Homo sapiens: one gene and its partners. The protein of the gene in region 1 interacts with the protein of each later gene in a pairwise test. Each region holds a gene or a part of one and is shown on either strand. Other genes may lie near its edges. The genes, in order: PIP4K2B, KYNU and TRPV2.

Region 1 (10,746 bases):
GCACTATGACACTGTTCCCATGGTCATCAATAACATAATCGTACACTTAAAATTTTGTCATGAGAGTACATCTTATGTTAAATGTTCTGACCACAATACAATTAAAAAAAAAAAAAGAAGAAGAAGAAAGAAAGAGCTAAAACTCTAGTTGGGAGGATTGCTTCAGGCCAGAAGTTTGAGAACATCCTGGGCAATACAGAGAAACCCCAATTCATTAAAAAAAAAAAAAAAAAAAAAAAGAGCTAGAACTATAAAACTTTTAGAAGAAAACAAAGGAGTAAATCTTCATGACCTTGGGTTAGGCAATGTCTTCTTAGATATAACACCAAAAGCACACACAACAACAACAAAAAAGATAAACTGGACTTTATTAAAGTTAAAAACTTGAACTTCAAAAGATACCATAAGAAAAATGAAAAAGGCAGGCCAGGTGCAGTGGCTCACGCCTGTAATCCCACCACTTTGGGAGGCCGAGGCGGGGGGATTGCTTGAGGCCAGGAGTTCGAGACCAGTCTGGCCAACATGGCAAAACCCTGTCTCTACTAAAAATACAAAAATTAGCCTGGTGTGGTGGCGGGCACCTGTAATCCCAGTTACTCAGGAGGCTGAGGCAGGAGAATCGCTTGAACCCGGGAGGCAGAGGTTGCAGTGAGCCAAGATCACACCGTTGCACTCCAGCCAGGGCGACAGAGCAAAACTCCATCTCAAAAAAAAAAAAAAAAAAAAAAAAAGAAAAATGAAAAAGACAACTCAATGAATAGGATAAAATATTTGCAAATCATATATCTGATAAGGGACCTGTATCTAGAATATAAAAAGAATTCTTGTAACTCAATAATAAGAAGATAACCCAATTTAATAATGGGCAAAAAGATCTTTGTAAATGGGCAAAAAATTTAATAGACATTCTCCAAAGAAAAGATACCAATGAAGGCTGGGGATGTGGCTCATGCCTGCAATCCCAGTCCTTTGGGAGGCCAAGGCGGGAGGACCACTTGAGGCCAGGAGTTCAGGACCAGCCTCGGCAACAAAGCGAGACCCTGTCTCTACAACAACAACAAAAAGAAAATGTACAGGCCAGGCACAGTGGCTCACACCTGTAATCCCAGCACTCTGGGAAGCCAAGGCAGGTGGATCACCTGAGGTTAGGAGTTTGAGATCAGCCTGGACAACATGGTAAAACTCCATATCTACTAAGAATACAAAAGTTAGCTGGGTGTGGTGGCAGGCACCTGTAATCCGAGGTACTTGGGAGGCTGAGGCAGGAGAATCGCTTGAACCAAGGAGGCGGAGGTTACAGTGAACTGAGATTGTGGCACTAAACTCCAGCCTGGGCGACAGAGCAAGACTCTGTCTCAAGAAAAAAAAAAAAAGAAAAGAATATGTACAAATGGCCAGTAAGTACATGAAAAAATGCTCAACATCATTAGTTATCACAGAAATGCCAATCAAAGTCACAATGAGGCCGGGTGCGATGGCTCATGCCTGTAATCCCAGCACTTTGGGAGGCCGAGGCAGGTGGATCACCTGAGGTCAGGAGTTTGAGACAAGCCTGGCCGACATGGTGAAACCTTGTCTCTACTAAAATAAAAAAATTAGCCACGTGTGGTGGCAGGCATCTGTAATCCCAGCTACTGAGGAGGCTGAAGCAGGAGAATTGCTTGAACCCGGGAGGTGGAGGTTGCGGTGAGCCGAGATTGCACCACTGCACTCCAGCCTGGGTGACGGAGTGAGACTCCATCACAAAAACAAACAAACAAACAAAATCACAATGAGATACGAATTCACACCCAACAGAATGGCTTTAATAACTTTAAAAAGACAATAACAAGTGTTGACAAGGATGCAGATACTGGAACTCTTATACACTGCTGGTAGACATGTAAAATGGTACAGCCACTTTAGAGAACAGTTTGGCAGTTTCTCAAATGGTTAAATACAGAGTCACCATCAACTGCTCCTGCTCCTCTGATCCCTGTGGTAAGGCTTCACACATACCTGGTTCTTAAAATGGCCAACAAGTATCAAGTCAGGTCTACCTCCCATGGTCTCCATGCTCCTCTCTGAGGCCATCTCTTCCCTAATTCCAAACCCTCGGAACTGTATTTCATCCACTAAAACACTGGTTTTTGCTCTTCACTAGTTCTTCCCTGACAGGTGCAAAGTCTTCTGATTTTTCTCCTTGTTTCCTACACATTCTTCCTCCACAAAATCCATGGGCTCTTGTCCATGAGAGCAGCTCCTGTGACAACACCAAGTTCAAAGTCCTCTCTTTTTCCACCTAGAAGTAAACTAATCACCTCATGAAAGGGTAACTAACTTCTGCTGTAGATAAAGACATATCCATCCTTCCTATCTGAAACACCATTAGCCACAGACCAGCATGCCTAAATGCCTAAACAGGTGAGAAACTAAAGAAAAGGTGGTATCTGAAATCTCAGATGACAAAATGTTACAAAGTAGGCTTTTTTTGAAGGGAGGAAATCTCCAAAAAAGTGCAGCAGTCCACCGAGGGCAATGTGGTCCTGATCCCTTAGACGAGTGCAAGATTACACTCTTCTTCTAGGCAGATGTCTCAGTTCCCAAATGGGGACACTGAAGTATCAGACCTTACTGCAGACCAGGATGAAGCAATAAAACTTACGACTAACTGGCCTCTGAAGCTTAGCCTGTCCAGGGCAGTGGTGGGAAGTTCCCATGAGATGCCTGTTCATTATGTCCAGAGGCACGGATCTTGCTTAAAGTCAATGCCTTTCCAACTAGCCCCTCAAACAAACTTTCAACTTAAAGTTAGCAAAGAAAAAAGATGACCACTTTGTCCAACAGAGTAGGACTCACAGGACTCCTGACTCGTGATACCTAACCATCAGCTATTGAGAAACTTCATAACCACATATGGACAGACTCATGCCTGCCTATCGGAACACCATGCATCACACACACTCCCAGGACCTGACATGCATAGGCGTATAACCCAGAGCATATATTCACCTTCTCTAACCGGACTATACTTCGCATCTATCCTGAGACTTGGCTGAGGGAGAGGAAAAGAAACAGGAGGCAAAGAAAACAAGACCAGCCACTCAGGCACCACCCTTGGCCGATACAGTCCCATGGTGCTAGACAATAAGCGACATCTCTTGCTGTAACCACAGGCAAGCTAATCCTCCACCTGAGGCCTCCTTTTCTTCATGTGTAAAATAAGGGACCCAAGGTTCATTGCAGCTAGCTGTAATACTCCTGACTCTCAGGCCTCTACCAGTTCTCTACAGACAGGTTGCTTTCTGTGAGAAACAGAACCAGCAGAGAGAGGCCTGGTAGAGTGAGAAGCAGGATGCAGAACAAAATCAAGGATTGACTTCCAGAAAGGGACATGGGGTTCATATTCTGATCACCCAGTTTCCCTAGAAATGTTGTCAGATGACCCCTGGGACAGCAGGAAGACCGAGTAACAAACTGGGCTGGATTGTTGGCCCGAAGCAGCTCCTAGAGGTCTGGGCATTATACCACTGGTACTCGCTATCCTGGCAGGACCCTCACTAACACCAGTGATGACAGTGAAAACAGTAACCTGCCCAAGACCAAGAAACCACAGAGACCTCAATTTACACATGCACTTTCCTAAATGACAGGTCAAGATCTAAAACCCTAGCTCAGATTACGGTTCATCGATCTCCACCCAAAGGCACCTTCAGCTCCTCTGCCAAAGCAATGCAAAGTCTTGCTGGCCCTCTTTGTCATCGCTTGGTCTTGTGAGCAATTTCAAGCACTCACAAGTGAACCTAAAGAACTGAAATCCACAGGAAACCCAAGCTTGATCCTCCTTATTCCAAAATTCTAGTTAGTGAAGTTGGTGTTTCGGGTCCTTTTACTTCCTCTGCTCATTCCTAGTGTGGGGATTCATAAAGAAATGGTCAGAAGGCAAAGAGCAAGTGGTTGGAAGAGGGAGAATAAAGACCCTGAACAAACACCACATAAACAGTCTTCCAGCTTAAACTGTCAGGATCCAACTTCCTGGCAGGGGCTGTTGAACAATCTCAAAGCACCCTAAGGACCCAGGGGACCTATCTCTCCTATCTAGGACCATAATCACTATGCATCATCACAACATTGCAGCCACACAACAGATAAGTCAACATCTTTAAAATGATCACCTTCAAAAACTATGGGAAGACATATTATTTCTACTATGAATAGTCCCTCCTTATAACCAGGCATCCTCTTCTCTCAAATGGTTAATAGCCATTCTTTCTTCTCCCTAACCCAGAGAGACCCAGGTGAAGTGTCTGGTTCAAGGAAGCCTGTGCTTCTCCAGTTGATACATCTTGTTCAAGAGGGAAAAAAAAGGAAACCCAGGGTGGAGTTCTACATTCAAAGGTAAGGAGGCCTGGAGGATGGAAGAATTTGAGCAGCCACAACAACCAAACGATCAGAAAGAGAGGACTATTTGGGCAGACCACTGCTACTTGACAGAGCTGGCAGCCGGCTGTAAGGAACAAGGGGGAATATACACCCTCACAAACAGGATGAGGGGGGAGGAGGAGAAGCAGGGATGAAAGCGACTCCACTGCACTGAGGCCTTGCCTTTGCGCTCCATGGGCTGCCCCAAGCGAGCACGCCACACGCAGGAAGCCAGAAGGGCTGGAGGGAAGGGGAGGTGGCGACGGCAGACCACAGAGACACCAGGCCTCGCGTGGCGTGCGGGGAGTGCACACGGGGCCGAAAGGCGTGCAAGGGTGGGGTGGGCGTGCAAGTGGCTTGGCGAGGGGTGGCAGGCGTCACCGGCAGGGCCTGCGGGGCAAGGGCCCAGGGCTGCAGGGGGCGTGGGAGCGCGCGGGGCCGCGCTCAGAGGGGCGCGCAGGAGCTGGTTACCGTGTGGTTCACCCCCCACATCAGGACGCTGAGGATCGGCTCGCTGGCCCGGAATAGCTTCACTTTCTGGCACACGAAATGCTTCTTCTTGGTCTTGGTCTTGCTGGCGCTGAGCGGCGCCACCGCCACCGCCGTGGTGCTGGTGCAGTTGGACGACATGCCCGGGGCGGCGGCGGCGGCGGCGAAAGAGGGGGGCGGCGGAGACAGCGCACAAGCCAGCGGCCTCAGGCCTCCCCCGGACCGATCCCCACCCCCGCTCCCTCACCGCGCCATGGTCGCGCCCGTCCCGTTACCTCCCACCCCGCCCCGGTGGTTCCGTCCGCCCCACGCCCCGCCCTCCCGCCCCGCCCCGGGGAGCCCGCCGGCCCGCTCCGCACCCCGCCCCCGGGCGGTGCAGCCGCCCTGCAGTCCCCTGGCCCCGTCCTCCCCGTCCGCGTGGTACGGCCCGTCCCGGGGAGGCAGCGGCCGCCCCGCCCGCCCCTCCTCCCCGGGCCTGACAGAAACCCGCCTGGCCTCCGAACGCCTCGGGGCCCCGTGCCGGAGCCGGAAGGGGAGGAGGGCTGGGCAGGCGTCGCTGTGGACCGCGGGAGGGGCTCCCCGCCCGGGCCCCCCAACGCCAGGGTTTGGCTCTTTCCCGCAACCCGAATGCCAAGATGGCGGCGATGCCACCGCTCCGGAAGGGAAGGAGGGACGGGAATGCGAGGAGGGCGGGACGTACCATGCCCACCCCGGGGGAGAGGAGGGACGCAGCAAGGGGAAGAGAAAGTCCAGCCTAGAAAGCCAAGGAACGCCCCCTCGCTCCACCTAAGCGTGGATCTGCCCACTCTGCTGGGCCCCGGGCGCGCTCCACCCGCGGGGCACGCCCCTTGCCCCCAGGGCCAATGAGAGAAGCAGGCCAGGAACACTGGTTTTTATGAATGGGCCCCGCGCCCACCCACCTGCTGCCTGTTCTCCCCGCAAAGGGTCAGAGCTCAGAGGCCGCCAGCACCTTCAGACACCTATCCCACTAATCGTCTTACTCTGGCTCATTTCGTAAAATCTTTGAGTAAACTGCCCCACGCTTTGTTACATAATTCTCAGATGAGGGATCTCCATATATTCGACACAAATTACAGGTCAACGTTGTTCTTTCTGCATGGAAATTCGTAAACACGGTACTCCACAGGTGGTCGCTCTTTAAACAGTTACAAAAATAAATGTGGCCTTTATTACCAATTATAAAATAAACATAATTAACCCCGGCATAATGAAGTGATTAAATGAATAAAAACGTATGTTACATTCTCTAGGGAAAGATCGGGTTTCAAGCATTACAGTGCCTGGCATCATAAGTGTTCAAAAACAGAAATCCAAATACATTTTAAGCAGAATTAGGAATTAGCAGAACAAGGAAATCGCCCAGCTAATGTGCGGGTCAAGAGGGCCTAGGAGTTCACTGGTCAAATGAGGGCTTCTGGTGAAAGAATAGAGAAGGGAAAAGGAGTAAAGACAGGAGAGTGGCCCCTCGAGGGTTTTGTTTTGTTGCTGTTGTTTTTTGAGACGGAATCTCGCTCTGTCACCCAGGCTGGAGTGCGGTGGCACAATCTCGGCTCACTGCAAGCTCCGCCTCCTGGGTTCACGCCATTCTCCTGCCTCAGCCTCCCGAGTAGCTGGGACTACAGGCGCCCGCCACCACGCCCGGCTAATTTTTTGTATTTTTTTAGTAGAGACGGGGTTTCACCGTGTTCGCCAGGATGGTCTCGATCTCCTGACCTCGTGATCCGCCCACCTCAGCCTCCCAAAGTGCTGAGATTACAGGTGTGAGCCACCGCGCCCAGCCTGTTTTTTGTTTTTTTTTTAGTACCTGACTGAAAGAGACTAGCAAACAACTCCTGAAAATCTGTAATTGTAGTAAGGTTACTACACGGTAAGAAGTGAAGCCGCAAAATAAAAACTTCCATTTTATTTTCCTTTAGGAGCCATGGAGCATATTGGCAATTTGGTTCTGACTCCTAAAATCATTTTACTATACCTTTACACTGCCTACATTGGAGACTGCAAGCAGTGGAAAAGAATAGATACTCCAGATCTCGTCGATAAACCCAGGCTCCTCCTAAACCAGCCAGATTCAGAGAGAAAAACGAGCTGGCCTGCCTTATTGTATTACTTGCCATCAAGGTTCAATGTGGTTCTATTACCCAGTAAAGTCATTGACCAAACAAGGTATTTTCACAAAGCTAACCTTTTTTAAAAGCATGTAAAAATTGTACATTTGTACATATACGCATTACAATTTTACATCCAAAGATCAAATAGTTAACAGTTCATTTAGGGCTTTTTGTATTGTTTGATTTTCCAGATTCTGTCACTCCCTTGGCTTTGACCTAACCTGACATCATTCTGTCACATTATCTTCTAAATCAAGTAAACGTTCATTTGTCTCAGTAAGCACAATCTATCTGGGTGACACCAGAGAGGTTTCTGAAGGGTCTGGTGTACGCTGAGGCAGTGAAATAGGTCTGTTGGCACAGGTAAGAAGGAAGTGGCATGATAAACATCACAACCCCAGGGAACAGCCTTCCAGAGTGGCACAAGCACTCCCACCGAGATGGTCCAGTGCCCACCCGTTAAAGAGTCAAAACCCAAAGTTACTGAGTGTCCCACAAAGCAAGTCACACTAGCTCTCAAAGGAAGTGAGCTGTTTCAGGACTCAATGAAGCAGGGTCACTTTGAACACTGGTGGTTTGACATCTGTGAAAGAAGTCATTTGAACTCTTATAAAGAGAATTAAGGGGTCAGCAGCTTCCCTGGAAAATGCAGGAAAACCAATAAGAGAGGGGACAGTTTTCATCTTTTCATAAAGTTCTTCTCCAGAGCTACCGAAGTTCTCTGTAAAGAGTAGATATTCCGCTTCACCCGATCCTCCAGGGAGGAAGTAGATGCACTCTCCAGCTTCATGCGGCTAGGAAGAGAAGACAGGCAAATGCAAGTCAAAAACATTTTCAATCAGTCAACTATTCTGGCAGCTTCAGAAGAAATGGGTTGTTAGCCATAGAGCAGCTGTAAAAACACAACCTCTTTTAAGCTCCCATAGATAACTTTCGAGTGACTCCACCTGGAACCAAATGTTTTTAAACCAGTGTCCATAAGGGAAAATGTATCTGTTTTGGAAAATAAGTCAAAGCCTCATTGGAAAAAGGCTTCCTGGGCCATGAATTCTTATTAAAAAGGAAGGTCAAGGAATTTCAATGATTTAGAAAATACCAAATTCACTTCTCCTCCCCTCAAATGAAAAACATCCCACTGTGTGGTCAGAAAGGAAGAGTAGTAGCCAAGGTGGTCTGAAGGCTGGGCTCCATGTGCAAACACAGAAACACTGGAACGGGAACCAGCTGCCAGCCTGCCTCTTAAGACCTTCCCCATGAAAGACCCTGGCAGGAAGAAGATGCACTCACTGGATGAACTTCCCATCCCGGGAGTCCAGCTTCTCTAGCCTCTGCTCCCGTTCCTCATCCTTAGCATGCCTCTTGAGGATGTTCAGTCTCTCCTCCTCCCTCCATTTGGCGTTTTCCATCATCTCTTGCCGTTTTCGCTCTAATTCCTCTGCAGAGAGTTTTCTGTTGAGCACAGAAACCATACGATCAGGTCTCTTCCAGCAAAAAAACCAGAAGCAGCACAAGAAGCACAGAAGCCAGGTGGGACCCCAAGCTCTCCAGTTCACTGCTCTCTCCAAGTGCAAGGCCAGCCTGAGTTCCCTTCTAACGTCCTGGTCAGGAGGTTTCATCCAAATTTCAAAGGCTTTTAGTAAAGTATTCCATAATCTCACTCAGTAATCTCTAGAGTGATTATTCTGAAATATGAAATATGAAATAAATTGGGAACTCATCAGGAACCTAAACTTGTAGCAATTATATCCCAATGGTTTGCTCAACAATTGACAGAAGAACAGAAGACTAGGTTATCCATGTAACTGTTAACATCTACCATCTAACTACCCATTGGAGACTAGAAATTCATGACACAGCCCATGAGTACACTACTTTAGGACTAAGCTAGAAGCCAGAAGCTGAAGGAATAACTTAGCCTCAGAAAATAATAAATAGGGCCAGGCATGGTGGCTCACGCCTGTAATCCCAGCACTTTGGGAGGCCAAGGCGGGCAGATCACCTGACGTCAGGAGTTCGAGACCAGCCTGGCCAACATGGGGAAACCCTGTCTCTACTAAAATTACAAAAATAAGCTGGGTGTGGTGGTGTGTGCCTGTAATCCCAGCTACTTGGGAGGCTGAGGCAGGAGAATCGCTTGAACCGAGGAGGCGGAGGTTGCAGTGAGCCAAGATCGCACCACTGCACTCCAGCCTGGGTGACAGAGTGAGTCTCTGTCTCAAAAAAAAATAAAAACCTCCAAACGAAAAACAATTTACTATTAAAAATCTGCTTCAGATAATAAATGAAAGATATTAGAGCATTCAAATGAGAGTAGGAGGCTTAAAAAAAAAAAACAAAAACGATTGCCAGGCACAGTGGCTCTAGCCCGTAATCCCAGCACTTTGGGAGGCTTAGGCAGGAGGATTGCTTGAGTCCAAGAGTTCAAGACCAGCCTAGGCAACAAAGTGAGACCTCCCATCTCTGCAAAAAAAAAATTTTTTTTTAATTAGTTGGGCATGGTGGCACCCGTGTAGCCCCAACTATTTGGAAGGCTGAGGTAGGAGGATCAGTTGAACCTGGGAGTGTGAGGCTGCAGTAAGCCATGATCGCCCCACTGCACTCCAACCTAGGCAACAGAGTGAGACCTTGTAGGGAGAAGAAAGAAGTTATCAAAGAAATAATACAAGAAAATTTCCTAGAACTCAAAGACATGGTTTAGATTGCAGGAAGCAAATACTGACACTAGGAAAAAATATACAAATCATACAAGAAAGGAAATGTAACCTCCATATTCTGCTTGGCTTAGGAATGAAAAGTATCAGTAAACAATATTTATATATCATACAAGTATGAATCCACATACTCACTGAACCAAAAATTCTGATGTAACCATATTGGAAAGATAGGGATAGAAGAAACATGGGACTAGGAGTGTATGAGAGCTCATTTACACTAACAGATTATTTACTATAACAGTAAGAAAATATCTAAGATCTGGCCGGGCACGGTGGCTCACACCTGTAATCCTAACACTTTGGGAGGCCAAGGCAGGTGGATTGCCTGAGCTCAGGAGTTCCAGACCAGCCTGGACAACACATTGAAACCCCATCTATATTAAAAATACAAAAATTAGGGCCAGGTGCTGTGGCTCATGCCTGTAATCCGAACACTTTGGGAGGCTGAGGCGGGCAGATCACCTGACCTCAGGAGTTCAAGACCAGCCTGACCAATATGGTGAAACCCCATCTCTACTAAAATATACAAAAATTAGCTGGGCATGGTGGCATGCGCCTGTAGTCCCAGCTACTCGGGAGGCTGAGGCAGGAGAATCGCTGGAACCCGGGAGGCAGAGGTTGCAGTGAGCCGAGATCGTGCCACTGCGCTGCAGCCTGGGCGACAGAGCGAGACAAAAAAAAAAAAAAAAAAAAAGGAAGCCCGGGCGTGGTGGCTCACGCCTGTAATCCCAGCACTCTGGGAGGCCGAGGCAGGCAGATCACCTGAGGTTGGGAGTTCGAGACCAGCCTGACCAACATGGAGAAAGCCTGTCTCTACTAAAAATACAAAAATTAGCTGGGTGTGGTGGCACATGCCTGTAATCCCAGCTACCTAGGAGGCTGAGGCAGGAGAATCACTTGGGCCCAGGAGGCGGAAGTTGTGGTGAGCCGAGATTGGGCCATTGCACTCCAGCCTGGGCAACAAGAATGAAACTCCATCTCAGAAAAAAAAAAAAAAAATTAGCTGGGCGTGA
Region 2 (10,374 bases), on another chromosome or scaffold:
AGAAATTTAAGCTTGCTGCAGAAATTTGCATAAGTAACGAGGAGCCGAATGTTGATCACCAGGACCAAAGGGGAAAATGTCTCCAGGACATGTCAGAGACCTTCATGGCAGCCCCTCCCATCACATGCCCAGAGGCCTAGGAGGAAGAAATTATTTCCTGGGCTGGGCCTAGGCTCTGTGCAGCCTTGGGACTTGGTGCCCTGCATCCCAGCACGTGTGATTGAAAGGGGCCAAGGTACAGCTCAGACCATTGCTTCAGAAGGTACAAGCCCCAAGCCTTGGCAACTTCCACATGGTGTTAGGCCTGCGGGTGCACAGAGGTCAAGAATTGAGGTTTGGGAGCCTCCACCTACATTTCAAAGGATGTATGGAAATGCCTGGGTGTCCAGGCAGAAGTCTGCTACATGGACGAAGCCCTCATGGAGAACACCTGCTAGGGCAGTGCAAAGGCGAAATGTGGAGTTGGAGCCCCCACATGGAGTTCCCACTGGGGAACTGCCTAGTGGAGCTGTGAGAAGAGGACCACCATCTTCCAGACCCCAGAATGGGAGATCCACTGACAGCTTGTACCATGCACCTCGAATTGCTGCAGACTCGCAATGCCAGCCTGGGAAAGCAGCTGGGAGGGGAACTGTACACTGCAAAGCCACAGGGTTGGAGCTGCCCAATACTATGGGAGCCCCCCTCTGGCATCAGCTTGACCCAAATGTGAGACATGGAATCAAAGAAGATAATTTTGGAGCTCTAAGATTTAATGACTGCCCTGTTGAATTTCAAAATTGCATGGGGCCTCCGGCCCCTTTGTTTTGGCCAATTTCTCCCATTTAAAATGGGAGCACTTATCCAATGCCTGTACCCCCATTGTATCCTGGAAATAACTAACTTGGTTTTGATTTTACAGGCTCATAGGCAGAAGGATCTTGCCTTGTCTCAGATGACACTTTGGACTTGGACTTTTGAGTTCATGCTGGAACAAGTTAAGACTTTGGGGGACAGTTGCGAAGGCATGATTTTGAAAAGTGAAGACCAGAGATTTGGTCAGGTGTGGAATAATATGGTTTGTCTTTGTGTCCCCATTCAAATCTTATCTTGAATTATAATACCCACATGTCAAGGGAGAGGCCTAGTGGAAAGTGATTGGATCATGGAGATGATTTCCCCCATGCTGTTCTTGTGATAGTGAGTTCTCACAAGAGCTGAAGGTTTTGTAGGGTCTCTTCTCCCTTTACTTTTCCTTTCTTCTCTCTCCTGCCACCTTGTGAAGAAGGCGCCTGCTTCACCTTCTGCCATAATTGTAAGTTTCCTGAGGCCTCCCCAGCCATGCAGAACTGTGAGTCAATTAAATCTCTTTTGTTTATAAATTACCCAGTCTCAGGTATTTTTCATAGCAGTGTGAGAATGGACTAATACAAAGGCAGAAGGGATTGTTTCCAACATCAGAATATATGGTGAAAAATATTACATACAAGGTGTTATTGAAGTCATAAATTTTGAGGCAGGTGACATAAATTCTCACCGAAGTCATCACTGTTCATTGTTTTTATTAAATTTTCCAACATTAACAAAAATAGAGAGAATTCCACATATTATTCACCCAGTTTTCAAATTTATCAAGATTTTTTCATACTATTTTTTTCTTCTTCCCTCCTACCTCTCCTCTCCTCTCCTCCCTTTCCTTCCTTCCTTCCTTCCTTCCTTCCTTCCTTCCTTCCTTCCTTCCTTCCTGTGGTAAGATGACTAATGACCCTCAAAGATGTCCATGTCCTAATCCTTAGAGGTATGAATATTTTACATTATATGGCAAAGAGGAATTGTGATTGTAGATGGAATTAGGTCACTAATCAATTGACCTTAACATAGGGAGATAATCCTTGATTGTCCAGTTGGCCTCAATAGACTCAAAAAGGCTCTTAAAAGTGGAAGACAGAAGAAAAGGAATAGTTAGAGAAAGATGTAAGGATGAAAGAATAGGTAGAGAGATGAAACGTTGCTGTCTTTAAAGATGGACCTTAAGCCAAGGATTGTGGGAAGCCTCTAGAATCTAAAAAAAGTAAGAAAACAGAGTTCCCCCTGGAACCTCCAGAAAGAAACGTCACCCTGCCAAGGCCTTGCTTTTGATCTCATGAGACCCATGTTGAACTTCTAACCTATGGAACTGTAAGATAATAAATGTGGGTTATTTTCAGTCACTATGTTTTTTGGTCATTTGTTATAGCAGCCATAGAAGAATACTACACCTTTTTAGTTTGTCATCGTTCTTTTTTATAATTTTGCAGAGGAATTTTAAGGCAAATTCCAGATTTTGTATTATTTCACTCCTATGTACTTGGTATATATATATAGAAATATGAATAGCTTCTTACTCCCACAATACTATTATCACAGCTAACAAATTAGATAAAAATACATTTCTCATTCAAATTTCCTCAATTCTCACAACAATGTCTTTTTATAGTTGGTCTTTGAATGAAGATCCCAACCAAGTCCACACATTGCATTTGTTTATTATATCTCTTCAGTCTCATAATTCAGGGTAGTGCCTTCTCCCTACCTGCCTCCTATTGTATTCATGCCACTGACATGTTGAATAAATCCAATCAGCAGCTATGTTGCATGCCCTGTATTTGACTCTTTATGGTATCATTTAATTGCCCCTCTATTCTTCATACTTTTTATAAACTGGAAGGTAGCTTTAGGGCTATTTTGATTGGACTTGGTTTCTTATTTCCTGACTGTACTGCAGAGTGGTGCAGTCTACTTCATATTCATCACATTGAGCACATAATTACATGTTGTTCCATTTTTAGTGGTATCAGTATTGATCAATGAAGTTCATAACAACGTGATGCCTCCACTATATATTAATAGTTTTCACTAACTTTTCCTTTAATGTTTTATCTTTGCCTGAATCTGTTATCCTAAGTATTGAAAAATGATTATATTCGATTTTCTTCATCAAATATTATCTGTAATTTCCTATAAAGAATAATTTTCCAAAGTAGAGTATTTATAATATGCTCTATATTATATATGAGAAAAGAGAGAATTGTGAATTGCCTTTATAGCTCTATTATGTAAAAAAAGTAATAGAAAGATAAAGTGAAACTTGGGGAAATACTTATACATAGTAAGAGGGAATAAACTGAAGAATTGGAGATATTGTAGAATCTAAAATTTAAAAAGAAAATTTATAAAAATTAAATGAAAAATTTCAAAATACTGAAACAATGTATCCAATTGGTGGTTGTAAGGACATAGGGAAAAAACCAGTGTTATTTCTACTCTCTCACTCAAGAATCAACATAAAATGCTTTACCTCTGGTCACCAAAATGTGTATAGGGATTTCTCCTCACCAGCAAGCAATTCTGCATTGAACGCAAGCTAGGTATCCTCTAATTGAATTCAATTCTGACATGATATACCTGGAGATATCATTCAACCCCACAGGTTAAGGGCTCAGTTCCACAAGACTGCCCCCACAACCCCACTTCCAACGCTAATGGCAAGTCCCTGGCTTTTTACCTACTAGCTATAAATTAGTATATTAATCCGTTTTCCCACTGCTGATAAAGACATTCCCAAGATTGGGCAATTTACAAAAGAAAGAGGTTTAATGGACTCACAGTTCCACATGGCCAGGGAGGCCTCATAATCATGGCAGAGGTGAAAGGCACATCGCACATGATGGCAGACAAGAGAAGAACTTGGGCAGGGAAACTCCCCTTTATAAAACCATCAGATCTCATGAGACTTACTCACCATCATGAGAACAGCACAGAAAAGACCTGCCCTCATGATTCAATTACCTCCCACCGGGTACCTCTCCAAACACATAGAAATTCAAGATGAGATTTGACTGCGGACAAAGTCAAACCATATCATTCTGCCCCTGGCCCCTCTTAAATGTTCTCACATTTCAAAACCAATCATGTCTTCGCAACAGTCACCCAAAGTCTTAACTCATTTCAGCATTAACTCAAAAGTCCGCAGTCCAAAGTCTCATCAGAGACAAAGCTTAAAGATGGACCTTAAGCCAAGGATTGTGGGAAGCCTCTAGAATCCAGAAAAGGTAAGAAAACAGAGTTCTCCCTGGAGCCTCCAGAAAGAAACATCGCCCTTCCACCTATGGGCCTGTAAAATCAAAAGCAAGTTAGTTACTTCCTAGATACAATGGGGATACAGGCATTGGGTAAATACAGCCACTCCAAATGGGAGGCATTGGCCAAAACGAAGGGGCTACAGGCCCCATGAAAGTCTGAAATCCAGTGGGGCAGTCAAATCTTAAAGCTCCAAAATGATCTCCTTTGACTCCATGTCTCACATCCAGGTCACACTGATGCAAGAGGTGGTCTCCCACAGCCTTGAGCAGGTCCGCCCCTGTGGCTTTGCAGGGTATAGCCCCCTCCTGGCTGCTTTAACAGGCTGGAATTGTCTGCAGCTTTTCCAGGTGCGTGGTGGATTTACCATCCTGAGTTCTGGAGGACAGTGGCCCTCTTCTCAAAGCTCCACTAGGTGGTGCCTCAGTAGGGACTCTGTATGGGGGCTCCCACCATACTTTTCCCTTCTTCACTGCCCTAGCAGAGGTTCTCCATGAGGGCCTTGCCCCTGCAGCAAACTTCTGCCTGGGCATCCAGGCATTTCCATACATCCTCTGAAATCTTGGTGTAAGTTCCCAAACCTCAGTTCTTGACTTCTGTGAACCCAGGCTCAACACCATATGGAAGCTGCCAAGACTTGGGGCTTCCACCCTCTGAAGCCACAGCCCAAGCTGTACCTTGGCCCCTTTTAGTCATGGATGGAGCTGCTGGGACACAGGGCACCAAGTCCCTAGACTGCACACAGCAGAGGGACCCTGTGACCAGCCCACGAAGCCATTTTTCCTTCTAAAGCTCCTGGTCTGTGATGGGAGGGGCTGCCACAAAGGTCTCTGACATGCCCTGGAGACATTTTCCTCATTGTCTTAGTGATTAACATTCAGCTTCTTGTTACTTATGTAAATGTCTGCAGCCAGCTTAAATTTCTCCTCAGAAAATTGGTTTTCCTTTTCTACTGCATTGTCAGGCTGAAAATTTTCTGAACTTTTATGCTGTATTTCCCTTTTAAAACTGAATGCCTTTAATAGCAACCAAGTCACCTCTTGAATGCTTTGCTGCATAAAAATTTCTTCCTCCAGATACCCTAAATAATCTGTCTCAAGTTTAATGTCCCACAAATCTCTAGGGCAGGGGCAAAATGCCTCCAGTCTCTTTGCTTTATGTCTAAAACATAACAAGAGTCACCTTTGCTCCAGTTCCCAAGAAGTTCCTTATCTTTGTCTGAGACCACCTCAGCCTGGACTTCATTGTTCATATTATTATCAGCATTTTGGTTAAAGCCATTCAACAAGTCTCTAGGGAGTTCCAAATTTCCCACACTTTCCTGTCTTCTTATGAGCCCTCCAAACCATTCCAACCTCTGCCTGTTACCCAGTTTAAAGTTGCTTCCACATATTCGGGTACCTTTTCAGCAGTGCCCCTCTCTACTGGTGCCAACTTACTATATTAGTCAGTTTTCAGGCTGCTGATAAAGACATACCTGAGACTGGGCAATTTACAAAAGTAAGACCCAATTCCACATGGCGGGGGAGGCCTCACAATCAGGGCAGAAGTTGAAAGGCATGTCTCAAATGGCACAGACAGGACAAGAGCCTTTGCAGGGAAACTCCACATTATGAAACCAACAGATCTCATGAAACTTATTCATTATCATGAGAACATCATGGGAAAGTCCTGCCCCCATGATTCAATTACCTCTTACCAGGTCCTTCCCACAAAGATAAAACTACAAAATCAAACAAGTTAAATAAAACATCTTATTATCCCAGACAAAATTGAAAATACCACTATGAAATAAAAATATAATTTATATTTTTAAAATATGTATTTTCTTTTAACTAAAAAATCCTAGAAACATGATCAGCTCAATTAAAATGAGCACTCTTCCTGTTAAGATTCTGGTTTATAAAGAAGGTTTTTCTCTGAAAAGAACTGTATAGTCTTAGATAAATAAATAACAAGTTTGAAGTTGGAAATATGTAATATAAGCCTACCTGTTTTTATACTAAAGGCTATGAAGTTATCAAAAATAGATAGGGTCATGTCAAAAGGACTCAAGAACCATCTTAAACAATCAAAAGTTGAAAAACTAGAGAATTAGTCAAAACAATTACTGCAATAAACCAAAACCACATCAGATCTATTTACATCCACTACTTCACAATGACCTCCATTATTATTGTGTTATTTGAGACTAAATCTTGCTGAAATTAAAAATAAAATTATTAGTGGGAAGAGAACATAGAGCATATCATACACACAGTGCACATGCTAATGGCCCACAGAAGCATCACATCCATAATCTCAGTAACAAGGTACCCTAATACTTTGATTCCCAGGTTGTGCTTTATTGATGTGATATTTCCAGGCTGTTTGAAGGTTTCTTTCTTGAAGTGGTGCAAAAATCCATTTACTTAAAAAAATCAATGTTCTAACAACTTCAGTTTATGGAGAAAATACACTATATAATTTAAATGTGAACCCATATAGTTTTGAACTCAAGAATAAGTAGAAAGTTATTGAGCATAAAATAGCTGTAGAAAAGTTTATTTAATTTGAAATTAATTTACTGACTTCACACCCAGTCTTTCTTCAGTCTGTTTTTTAATAAGTTAAAGCAACATGAAATAAATATAATTAGTTTTAAAAAAACAGCCCTATATATTGTAATAGCCCCAGAAGATCACTATAAAAGAATTGACATTCATATAAATTTGCATGACTGGATGAAGAAAATGTGGTATATATACACCATGGAATACTACGTAGCCATAGTATTGAGGAATGAGATCATGTCCTTTGCAGGGACGTGGATGAAGCTGGAAGCTATCATCCTCAGCAAATTAACACAGGAACAGAAAACCAAACATCGCGTGTTCTCACTCATAAGTGGGAGGCGAGAATACATGGACACAGAGAGGGGAACAACACACACCAGGGCCTGCTGGGGGGTGGGAGGTGAGGGGAGGGAACTTAGAGGACGGGTCAATAGGTGCAGCAAACCACCATGGCACACGTATACCTATGTAACAAACCTGCAGGTTCTGCACATGTATCCTGGTTTTCTTTAGAAGAAATTTTTAAAAAATACAATTGCTTCAAATATTTATTATATTTATATTATTTAAATATATATTTAATTATCATGTTTACATAAAATAGATTTTACATAAAATAGATTTTATACTGTATTATATATTTCATATTTTATATGTTTTTATTTTATATAAATATATGTTTATATATTATATATATATTCAGGTAAATCCTACTTATGTGATTGGAAAAAAACCGAAAACAAGAATTTAAAGTGTTCTTCTCATTGATTCTCTGCAACTGACAGAAGCAAACATAAAAACTCTGGAAAATCAGACTTAACTCAGTTTTCAAAGAATTCAAAAGGTCAAGGTAAATGAGCAGTTCGAAGCTATCAATCACAAAACTACAAAGGAAACAAGGCATCATATGTGAACTCCAACAGAAACAACTGTACATTCATTATATATTAGATATGGACTATCAACTAGTTGTGATTAAGAATAAAGAAAATGCTGACTTAGATCAGGTTCCCGTGACACCGTGCTTGAGATTGGGATTTGGATGACTATGTTTTATTGAAGGAGTGCTCATCAGGGAAACCTGTAACAGAGGAAGTGAAGGGGATCACCAAAAGAGCTGGGCAAGGGATGGTCTCAGGAAACTTCTAGTCATGGTCTAATCCACAGAGAAGGGGTGGCTTCTGAAGCATAAACTGTAGTGTGAAGATTATCCTTCTCCTGACTGATACAAAGTGTAAGTTTTTCATATTTTCATTTTTTTTTCCAATCCTTTATAGTGTGTGGCCTGACCCCAAAGTTTGAGGAGGGAGGTAGCTAAAAGCGTTGGTGGCAGCCACCAGGCAAAACAGCTGATGCAGGGAAGCTCAATGGGGAACCAGAATGTCCACTACTAATGCCTAAAGCAGAAGCACATTCGAAAGATCACAAATGGAAGGAATTTTGAACAGAAATCTAATGAAACTTTTAGAAACTAAAATATATGTTTTAGAATTCTTAAGAATGCAGCCCAGAAATTCAAAGAAATAGAAAATATGAAGTTAAAGGCATAAAGGAGAGAGTGAAAAATTCTAACATATACCCTTTTATTTTAAAAAGGAAATAATAGAAAGAGGTAATAATTGAATAAATAAATAATACTTCTGAATTTTCTAGAAATTAAAAAATTAATCCTCAAATCTTGGATAGACAGCAAATAAAGAAATAGAATAAACACAATAATAACTGCCTAGACACATCATAATAAAAATGCGGATCATTAAAGACAAAGAGCCCTTAAGAGCAATGGTTGAACTAATTTACATTCCCACTAACAGTGTAAAAGCATTCTTATTTCTCCACAGCCTCACCAGCATCTATTGTTTCCTGACTTTTTAATGATTGCCATTCTGACTGGCATGAGATGGCATCTCATTGTGGTTCTGATTTGCATTTCTCTGATGATCTGAATGCTTAACAGCAGTAATGGAAGCCAAAATACTGTAACTTAATATTTTCTACTTCCTGAAAGAAAATTACTGTCGACATAGAATTCTATATGAAGTGAAACTATTTTTAAGTAATGAGAAAATGGTATCAATAAATGTTTTTTCCCAAAGACTAATACAATTTACCACTAAAAGTTTTTCATTAAAATGAATTGTAATAAATTATATATGTACTTCATCCATAAATAAAATTCTGAATTGTAGGGAGAAATAGCAAACATTAGTGAGAGAGAGAGAGACAGAGAGAGAGAGAGAGAAAGAGGAGGGAGGAAGCTAGACTAAAAATGCTATAATGAATAGCAATAGTGTATAAGTAAAGAGTTGGCTGTTTGATGTTAAAGCATTCTCATTTCTTCAACTAGTCAGAAGGAGAGTTATAAAAAATGGCTAATTCTAAACTTCATTATATTTGCATGTTAAAATAGCCAGAGTAATTGCTAAAATAACAAAGAATAAGTGTATAATTTCCACACAAATAGAAAGAAAAAACGGACTCAATACACCTCCACACACACATCCCTAAATCCAAAAGAAGAAAAACAGAGGAAAATAAATAAAAATCAAAAAGAAAATGAGGGGCTGGGTTTGGTGGCTCACACGTAATCCCAGCATTTTGGAAGGTCAAAGTGGGCGGATCACCTGAAGTCAGGAGTTTGATACCAGCCTAGCCAACATGGTGAAATCCTGTCTCTATGAAAAATACAAAAATTAGCTGGGCATAGTGGCCCATGCCTGTAATCCCAGCTACTTGGGAGGCTGAGGCATGAAAATTGCTTGAACCCGCAGTGAGCTGAGATCGTGCCACTATACTCCAGCCTGGGTGACAGAGAGAGACTGCCTCAAAAAAAAAAAAAAAAAAAAAAAAAAGAGGTCCAGGAGTGGCAGCTTATGCCTGTAATGGGAGGCTGAGGAGGGAGGACTGCTTGAGGCCAGGAGTTTGAGATTAGCCTGGGCAACATAGCAAGACTCTGAATCTACAAAAAAAATTATTTTTAAAAATTAGCTTGGCATCGTGGCATGTGCCTGTAGTCCCAGCTGCTTGGGAAACGGGGGACAGAGGATCACTCAAGTGTTTGAGTTGGAGGTTGCAGTGAGCTATGATCATGTGCCACTGCACTCCGCCTGGGCAACAGAGTGACACCCTGTGAGAAAGAAAGAAAGAAAGAAAGAGAGAAAGAGAAAGAGAGAGAAAGAAAGAGAACAAGGAAAGAAGGAAGGAAGGAAGGGAGAAAAATGTGCTCATTTGCATAAAATTTCCCATATTAAAAATAGATACCAATTGAATTCATGTATATACAGTATCAATTATCAGTTAAATGTTAAATTTTATAAAAGATAACACATGGGGCTGGTGCAATGCCTCATGCGTATAATCCGAATATGGGAAGCTGAGGCAGGAAGATTGCTTGGGGCCAGGAGTTTGAGACCAGCCTGGGAAATGTAGCAAAACACTGTTTCTACAACTTTTTTTAACTTAACACTTAAAAATGAGCCAGGCATTGTGGCACATGCCTGTAGTCCTAGCTACTCCACAGGCTGACGTGGGAGGATCACTTGAGCCCAGGAGGTTGAGACTGCAGTGAGCTATAATCACATCAGTACACTCCAGCCTGGGTGACAGAGGGAGACCCTGTCTTTTAAAACAACAACAAAAAAGATAATGTGGAATGACAATAAAATTAGAAGTACTTAGGAATTTGTCAAACTATAAATGTGCGTTTCCATAATAGAGAAAA
Region 3 (8,307 bases), about 22 Mb from region 1:
TTGTAGAGGTTTCAGCGACTGCGGTCAGATAGACATTAGACGTCGTCAGTTATCGCTTCTGACGGCACTTCCTATTACAAGTATCATCAGGACAGTCGAATAAGTCTTCCAGTAATACTGTTACAATCTTACCGACGTACACCGCCCTCGGGGTACCCCAAACTGCAAGCCGACCCCAACTTACCCAGTTCTCTCGGGTTTGCACACCCCCACTGTGGGCCGGGGAACCGGGTCCCGGCCTTCGCAGACTCCAGGCTCTGGCAGATGTGGCCCTACCACAAAAGAGTGATCCATGAGCCTCAGCCACGGCAGCCGGATTCGGCCCCGCGCTGCCCTGCCAGGCTGTCCAATACCGGGCCGCAGCGCCCGCCGCGAAAGCCACGCGGGCGCAGGAGCCGGGGAGCCACGCCATCTCAACAGCTGCCCTCCGCCCTCTAGACAGGCTTCCCGGGAACATCTCCCCAGAGACCACAGAAGCTCGAGCTCTTTATTTGCTCTTGCCCCCCAGCTACTACTCCCAGATTCCTAGAGAGCCTACCTCCATAACAACGGGAATGAAAAGGTCACACCTTATGTGCGCCAGGCCCTTAAGGAGTCGGAATATCCCAATCCTCACAAAAGGAGGGGGACGCTGGCAAAGACTCATGGGAACTTTCCGCCAAGTAACGATTTAGACCGGCGCGCTACCCAGGACTCCCCCTCCTGTTGAGTCTATGGTCTCTTCCACAGCCCCGGGAATTCTGGGTCACAACACGCGCGGGGAGTTCCAGGGCGCCTGCGCGAGGGCTGGATCGCGCGTTTGGGCCCCACCTCCGCCACTCCTTAGCTGGGTGGTCTTGGGCCAATTACTCATTCTCTTTAAGCTTCCGATTGGTCCTCTAGTAAACGGAGACACCAGCGCCCCAGAAGATCACGTGAGATGACACACGTGAAAGCCTGTAGAGCTGTGGCACAAGGCAGCCATTCATCCTAGTAGCTCCTCCTGAATCTATTGAGCGTTGCCAAATACTCTCCCCACAGCTATTTCACCACATCCACGGGGCTTCTCAAACCCCTGCGCACTGGTCACCCTCATTACTCCTTTAGCACGACCTTTAGGGAACGAGCTGACGTCTTATCTAGATCCACGTCCATCCTCTGCTCGCCTCTGGGGTAAAGCTCTGCCCACCTCCTTTCCTCTCCTCATTCCTTGGGGCCTCCTCCACCTATGCCCCTGCCTCACCTTCCATGGAAAACTCTCTCTACTGTGGCTTTCCTTTCAGCCTATGAACATGCTCAGCTCTCTCCTTGAAAAAGAATCCATGCAACCACGTTTTGCACACACACGTTATACCAAGGGAAAGAAATTCATTTTGACTGCAAAAAACTGGGAAGACAATCATAAGACCTTTTGAGCTGGCCTCAGAAATAAGTGTAGGGTTTTTGTTGTTGTTGTTGTTGTTGCTCGTTTTTGTGTTTTTTTGAGACGGAATTTCGCTCCTGTTGCCCAGGCTGGACTGCAATGGCGCGATCTCCGCTCACCGCAACCTCTGCCTCCCGGGTTCAAGCGATTCTTCTGCCTCAGCCTCCCGAGTAGCTGGGATTACAGGCATGCGCCACCACGCCCGGCTAATTTTGTATTTTTAGTAGAGACGGGGTTTCTCCATGTTGGTCAGGCTGGTTTCGAACTCCTGAACTCAGGTGATCCGCCCGCCTGGGCCTCCCAGAGTGCTGGGATTACAGGCGCCCGGCAAGTGTAGGGTTTTATTTTATTATTATACTTTAAGTTCTAGGGTACATGTGCACAACGTGCAGGTTTGTTACATATGTATACATGTGCCATGTTGGTATGCTGCACCCATTAACTCATCATTTACATTAGGTATATCTCCTAATGCTATCCCTCCCCCCACCCCCAAGTGTAGGGTTTTAATGGAGGAGGGGGGCTTCCAGCAAGAGCCAGGTCAAGGGATCAAGCACGAGGTCTCTCGGCCTGCATGAATTTGGGGAGAGTGCTAAGGAGGGAGGGGCAACAGAGGTGGAGGGGAGGAGGTGTCTGGAACTGCTTGGGCAAAACCGTGGGGGTCTCGGGATGTCAGCTAGGGCATTCTGTGGGTACTGGGGAGCCTCTCAGGCCTTCAGAGCACAAAGAGGACATGTTTGTCTTATGTCTTAGGAAGGCCCTCTGGCTGCCCTGCAGAGAATGGCTTGGGAGGGGTGGGAATTGAGCAAGAAGCTCGGTAGGAAGAGAAAGCAAGAGAGGTGGCTTTAATGGGTTTTCCCAGGTACCTGCCCAAAAGCAGGGTGGGTGTGGAAAGCAAAGGGTGTCGTGGTGGAGAGAGAGGAGAGGTGGCTGTTTGCCCATGTCCATCACCATATATCTGCCACAACAATGGGCACAGCACCTCAGCCAGCTGCCTGTACCCAGGAAGAGGACAGTCCCCAGACTTGGGGATGTGGGGGTGAGGGTGGGGACACAGCAACTGAGGGTCTCTGTGCCCAGGCAAGGGCAGGAGCAACCTAGTCCCATACACAGACCTGTGCACACAGAGACATGCAGACATTGCCAGCTCTAAGGGTCCCAGCAACTCTGCCCAAATAATGTTTCCAGAAGAGTTAGTTAGTGAAAATATATATTTGCCACCAGAATTCACTGGGACCCCAGAGCCAGCAGATGTGGTTGGAAAGATCCTCTGCTCTGTCCTCTGGCCTCCTGCTGCATCTGGGCCATCAGTTGGACTGGAGGAGCTGGACGGGCACATAGTTTTCCTCAGAGGCACCATCCTCATCCTCCTTGGGAGGGGAAGCCAGGACAGGGTTCTCGAGAGTTCCTGTAAACAGATGGCAAGCACTGTAGCTTAACCCTTGAGTGTGTCCCCAGGAAGCAGGCACCAGGGAAACGGGGCCACAGTCATGAAAACACGTCATGCCGTGGGGACAGCCTCAGCGATCCTGGAGGCCAGCAATCCTTCTCCCTGCTTCCCTCACTCCACAAGCATTTCCCAATCCCCTGCCATATCAGGGGCTTCCCCCTGCCCCTGCCACCCCCAGGAGCTTAAAGTGCCTGGAGGTGACAGACTTGTGTGTCAGAGATCAGAACACCTGAGACATGCTGGGGGAGCTCAGAGGAGAGAGGGGACCTGTCCTGCAGGGGCGGTGGCAGATTTGGACATCCAGAGGGGAGGAAGAGCACTTCCGACAGAGACGAATCCAGAGATGAACCAAGGAAAGCAAAGAACAAGGAGTACTGCAGACATGTGGATGGAGGTGTGGGGAGTGAGTTAGACAGCTTTGGGCCCTGACCTCCATTCTGAGCAGTGCGGCCTTCCAGGTAGTGGGAGGCATTGTGTAGCGTGGGCTGCATGTGGTTTTTGTCCACATTAGCAGGACTGCAATGGGTAAGAGTGCAGGCTGGGCCCCCCTGCAGTGGTGCAGAAGTAAGAGGCAGGGCAGGGCAGAGGGATGAGTGGCCGCCTGAGGGGTCAAGGACACTCAGCTCCAGGTGGGAGAGCTGGTATAGCGGGGGGAATAGGCTGAGACTCTCAAGGCCTTCCACCTGGGTGAGGAGGGGGTGGGGTGACATACATGTGACCTGCTGGGGCAGCCCCGAGGCTGTTCCTGTTGGGAATGTCACATTGGAGGCCCCAGCAGGCAGTGGGGTGTGGAGTGCTTGGGGCAAGATGAGGGAGGGACAAGGTGACTTTCAGAGGTGACTTTCCTGGCATTGTAGTGAAGAGAGGGAGATGCAAAGAGAAGGTGAAGGGAAACCTATCTGTATGTGAGGCAGTGGTCACGGCCCAGGAGCCTGGGAAACCAGCAGGCTGTGGGGCAGAAGAGGCCAGAGGAGCCTCCCTACAACAGGGGCCATGGGAGACTCAGGAGGCTATTGTGGGGGGCAACAGGCACAAGCAAGTGAAATTTGTCAGGAAAGAGATGGAGAAAGGAGAGGAGGTGAACCAGTGGAAGGTGGGAGCTATTGAAGGTTCTAGAAAGAAAGGGTATGCAGTGGGGACAGCTAATCCTCAGAACAGGCCTCTGAGGGTGGGAGGAAGGAACCAGTCTTGGTGGAGGCAGCAGGGTGGGGACAGGAGGGGCCATCACTACACTGGAACGGAGAGGACACAGGCCACGGACATGGAGGAAGCATGGGAAGTGGTTTCTCAGAGGTGGGGGACTTGGGGTGTGAAGGGACTAAGGGCCTATGCAGGGCAGTTCCTCTGAGGGTCCAGGGAGATGCTGCCTCTGTTGTAGGCTGCGCTGTGACACAGCCCTTCCTAACTTATTCCCCTGCTGAGTCCCCAGGCTCAGCCCAGGCCTGGCTGGGGACAGACCCTCGATAACCAATTGAATGGGCAAAGGGTGTGACTGACTGGCATCAGAGAGAGGGCAGCCAGAGGCTGGGCTGGTGGAAGCGCTAACAGCCTCAGAGGTTTCCCCTGGTTCCTGCCTGAAAGCAAGGTGTGGGTGGAAAGGAAAGGAGGGAACCACTGTTTTAAGGAGGCAATCCCTCTAAGAGGAGCTGGCATGTGGGGATCTGCAAAGGGACTATGAGGAGGTCTCTGGGTCCTGCCCCAGACTCTCCAAGGCTTTGTGGCCAAGCAGCAGAGACACACACCCCAGGGCAGAGGCTCTAGTCACCAGGCTACTCACGAGGGACACCTGCCCCTGACGGGTCCTCACACAGCGTAGGCAGCGTCTGCTCCCATGAAGCCCAGTTCACCTCCTCCACCCTGAGGGCAACAGAGCAGCTCTGAGGTTTGCCTGCTTTGACCGCCTCCCCTCCCACCCCGGAGAGGGGCGTGGCCCCCCAAATTGGGAGACTATGCAGAGATGCTCTGGTGGACACAGAGGCCCTGAGGAGGACAGGCTTTTTCTCTGCAGGGTTCTGGGCCACCCACTTGGAGCCCTGTCCTGTGAGGCAGGTGCTCACTTGCAGGAATCAGCATCCATCGCTTCTGGCTGTTCACAGCAGCCTGGGTTGCCCAGAACAACCAGAGAAGAGGAATTCAGATCAGGTGTATCTGTGCTTCCGGGTTCTGGGGCCTATCATGGCTGCTCCTCATGCCCAAGACTCCGTCTCTCTGCTCATCTGCTGCCTCACGACAGTGTCTGTTTTTTTTGTTGCTGTTGTTTTCTTTTTTTTTTTTTTTTTGAGATGGAGTCTCGCTCTGTCGCCCAGGCTGGAGTGCAGTGGTGCGATCTCAGCTCACTGCAAGCTCCGCCTCCCAGGTTCATGCCATTCTCCTGCGTCGGCCTCCTGAGTAGCTGGGACTACAGGCGCCCGCCACCACGCCCGGCTACTTTTTTGTATTTTTAGTAGAGATGGGGTTTCACTGTGTTAGCCAGGATGGTCTCGATCTCCTGACCTCGTGATTTGCCCGCCTCGGCCTCCCAAAGTGCTGGGATTACAGGCATGAGCCACTGCACCCGGCCGACAGTGTCTGTTTTTAGCTGTGTGTTTGTCACTAGGTTCCCTCTCCCAGTGTCCCAGCCTTTCCTGGACACAGAAGGGCATGTTCTCCATGGAAGGGGTTGTAGCTCAGAGATCAGGCTGGCAGAATTGGGGGTGGGGGGACACAGAGCAGCCAGGGCAATGCTAGAGTGCTAGCAACCCAAGGGTCCCTCTGACTTCTTGGCCTCCTTACCGTAACACATTTCAGGCTACAAGGAGGAGTCTGAGATCACCAGGAGGGGACCTTCAGTTTAAGCCACTGGGACAGGCAGATGGCCAGTCATGTGGCAGCCATGGCTTGTGAGATCCAGACCCCTGACCTCACCTGCTCAGGCTCAGTCCCTGGTGCTCTTTGGGCCTGCCCTTCCCACCAGACCTGGCTCCTGGCAGCTGTGCCCTGCACTGCAGGGGGGCCCCAGGGATTGCTGGACAGCAAGGCCCCCAGGAGACCCTCCCACCACTCACTCACCTGAAGCACCAGCGCTCATCGGGGCTGCCATCTGGCTTAGTGCCAACGGTCAGCATCACACCTGCCCGCTGCTTCTTCCTGCACCACCAATAGCCATTCTCCATCTCCAGGACAGAGATGGCTTTCTGGGGACAAAGGATGCATCAGACAGAACGTCCTGGGACCCTGCCTGGGGGCAAAGGCACACAAGGCAAGCGGAGCAGGGAAGTGCCGCGCAGCACTTCACAGTATAACGCGAAGTCAACTAAACACGCGGATTCGAATCTGGCTCCAACATCCGGTTACCTGTGTGGGGTTGGGCCCTCAGCCTCTCTGCATCTCAGTTTCCCCATTTGTAGACTGAGGACAAAGTGCCTCAGACAGCTGATGGGAAGTCTGTACCTTATGAGTACTGGACAGCTACTTGCTCTTACATCGTTCCAGGCTCCAGATTGCCACACCACCAGGAACAGAACTTCATTTGCTCACCCCACACATGTGCCTGCCCAGAGGCACACCAGTGAGTCAGGTGGGGCACAGAACCTTGCAGAGGAGGGCACCAAGGCTCAGAGGAGATAAGGGGCTTCCCCAAGATCAACAATGAATTGGCAGCAGGGTGGGGCATGGTGGCTCATGCCTGTAATGCCAGCACTTTGGGAGGCCGAGGCAGGTGTATCACCTGAGGTCAGGAGTTCAAGACCAGCTTGACCAACATGGTGAAACCTTATCTCTACTAAATACAAAAAATTAGTGGGGTGTGGTGGCACATGCCTGTAATCCTAGGTACTTGGGAGGCTGAGGCAGGAGAATCGCTTGAACCCAGGAGACAAAGGTGGCAGTGAGCCAAGATTGCACCATTGCACTCCAGCCCGGGCAACAAGAGCAAAACTCTTGACTCAAAAAAAAAAAAAAAAGAAACACTGGACAGCAATGATGATAAGAGTAGCTGGTAGCACATTGAGCACCTGCTTGGTGCTGGGCACTGTCCTAAGTACATCTATGAGCTTAAAGGAGGTGGGAGTAATCTCAGCACTTTGGGAGGCAAAGGTGGGAGGATCACCTGAGGCCGGGGCAACATAGTGAGACCTTCTTCTCTACAAAAAATAAAAATATTAGCCAAGTGTGGTGGCAGGTGCCTGTAACCCCAGCTACTCAGGAGGCTGAGGAAGGAGGATCACTTGAGCTCAGGAGGCCGAGGCTGCATTGAGCTGTGATCGTGCCACTGCACTCCAGCCTGGGTGACAGAGCAAGACCTTGTCTCCAGAAAAAAAAAAAAAAAAGGAAGAGGAAGACTGACAAGGTAGAGCTGCCCAACCCGGCATCTCCTGGCTAGGGAAGGCCCAGCTCCGCAGGGTCCGGAGCACTCCCCACCGCCTGAGTGTGGGGTGGGGTGGGGGCAGGGAGCCTCTCTGGTGGCACCTGCAGCTTCCAGATGCTCCAGCTGTCAGTGGCGACACTGTTGACGGTCTCGCTCATGAGGGCGATGAGCATGTTGAGCAGCAGGATGTAGGTGAGCAGCACGTAGGCCAGCAGCAGCAGCAGCACCATGCCGCGGAAGTGCAGCTGCTCCTGGAAGGCCAGCTCGCCCATGCCGATGGTGAATTTGAAGAGCTCCAAGGAGGCTTCCAGGATACCCCTGTACTGGGCCCCGTTGCCCTCGTCCTCCTGTCCCTCCATGGGCTGCACTGACTCTGTGGCATTGGGGCCTGTAGGAGCTTCGGGGCGCCAAGCCTCCTGGCTCAGGCTCACCAGGGCTATGGGATGAAGGGAGAGGGGTCCTTAGCCCAGGAGACCGGTGGGCAGCCTTGGGAGTGTACAGGGTGGACAAGGAACGTGGGGAAGGGGGAGGGGGCCGGAGGGAGCCTTTACCTACAGCGAAGCCGAAAAGGAAGACTAAGTAGATCAGAAGGAAGCGCAGCAGGTCCCGCAGGATGACCTGGAACACATGTGCCCAGGGGCCAGGGTGGGTAGCTGGGCCACCAGTCACGACCCCAGAACCCTGCCTCACCCACAGCAGCATGGTTCCCGTGTACACTGCACATACGCACACATACATATGCATATGTGGGCCTGTGGAGCCACACCGAGCAGAGGAGTCTTTTAAAAATATATCTCAGATCTGGCTGGGTGCGGTGGCTCATGCCTATAATCCTAGCACTTTGGGAGGCTGAGGCGGGCAGATTACCTGAGGTTGGGAGTTCAAGACCAGCCTGGCCAACATGGTGAAACCGCGTTTCTACTAAAAATACAAAAAATTAGCCAGGTGCAGTGGTGTGCCTGTGCTTGTAATCCCAGCTACTCAGGAGGCTGAGGCAGGAGAATCACTTGAACCCAGGAGGCAGAGGTTGTGGTGAGCCGAGATCACACCACTGCACTCCAGCCTGGGCTACAGAGTGAGACTTCGTCTCAAAAAAAAAAAAAAAAAAAA

What was found.
Region 2: the proteins of PIP4K2B (region 1) and KYNU interact in binary tests that used the Homo sapiens proteins (3 or more experiments, as listed by UniProt).
Region 3: the proteins of PIP4K2B (region 1) and TRPV2 interact in a protein complementation assay, tested with the Homo sapiens proteins (one study listed by IntAct).

The regions. Positions count from the first base shown.
Region 1 is NC_000017.11:38,794,394-38,805,139, forward strand, and holds the start of PIP4K2B (phosphatidylinositol 5-phosphate 4-kinase type-2 beta), read right to left. Parts: upstream 5,164-10,746; 5' UTR 5,032-5,163; coding exon 4,873-5,031; intron 1-4,872. Other genes in the region: pre-mRNA-splicing factor CWC25 homolog, read right to left, coding at 7,699-7,813, 8,307-8,468. UniProt on the Homo sapiens protein: Participates in the biosynthesis of phosphatidylinositol 4,5-bisphosphate. Preferentially utilizes GTP, rather than ATP, for PI(5)P phosphorylation and its activity reflects changes in direct proportion to the physiological GTP concentration.
Region 2 is NC_000002.12:143,046,984-143,057,357, reverse strand, and holds the end of KYNU (kynureninase), read right to left. Parts: 3' UTR 1,525-10,374; downstream 1-1,524. UniProt on the Homo sapiens protein: Catalyzes the cleavage of L-kynurenine (L-Kyn) and L-3-hydroxykynurenine (L-3OHKyn) into anthranilic acid (AA) and 3-hydroxyanthranilic acid (3-OHAA), respectively. Has a preference for the L-3-hydroxy form. Also has cysteine-conjugate-beta-lyase activity.
Region 3 is NC_000017.11:16,431,292-16,439,598, reverse strand, and holds the end of TRPV2 (transient receptor potential cation channel subfamily V member 2), read right to left. Parts: intron 7,816-8,307; coding exon 7,749-7,815; intron 7,634-7,748; coding exon 7,299-7,633; intron 6,026-7,298; coding exon 5,901-6,025; intron 4,710-5,900; coding exon 4,630-4,709; coding exon of another isoform or gene 4,622-4,629; exon of another isoform or gene 4,618-4,621; intron 2,811-4,617; coding exon 2,710-2,810; 3' UTR 2,596-2,709; downstream 1-2,595. UniProt on the Homo sapiens protein: Calcium-permeable, non-selective cation channel with an outward rectification. Seems to be regulated, at least in part, by IGF1, PDGF and neuropeptide head activator. May transduce physical stimuli in mast cells.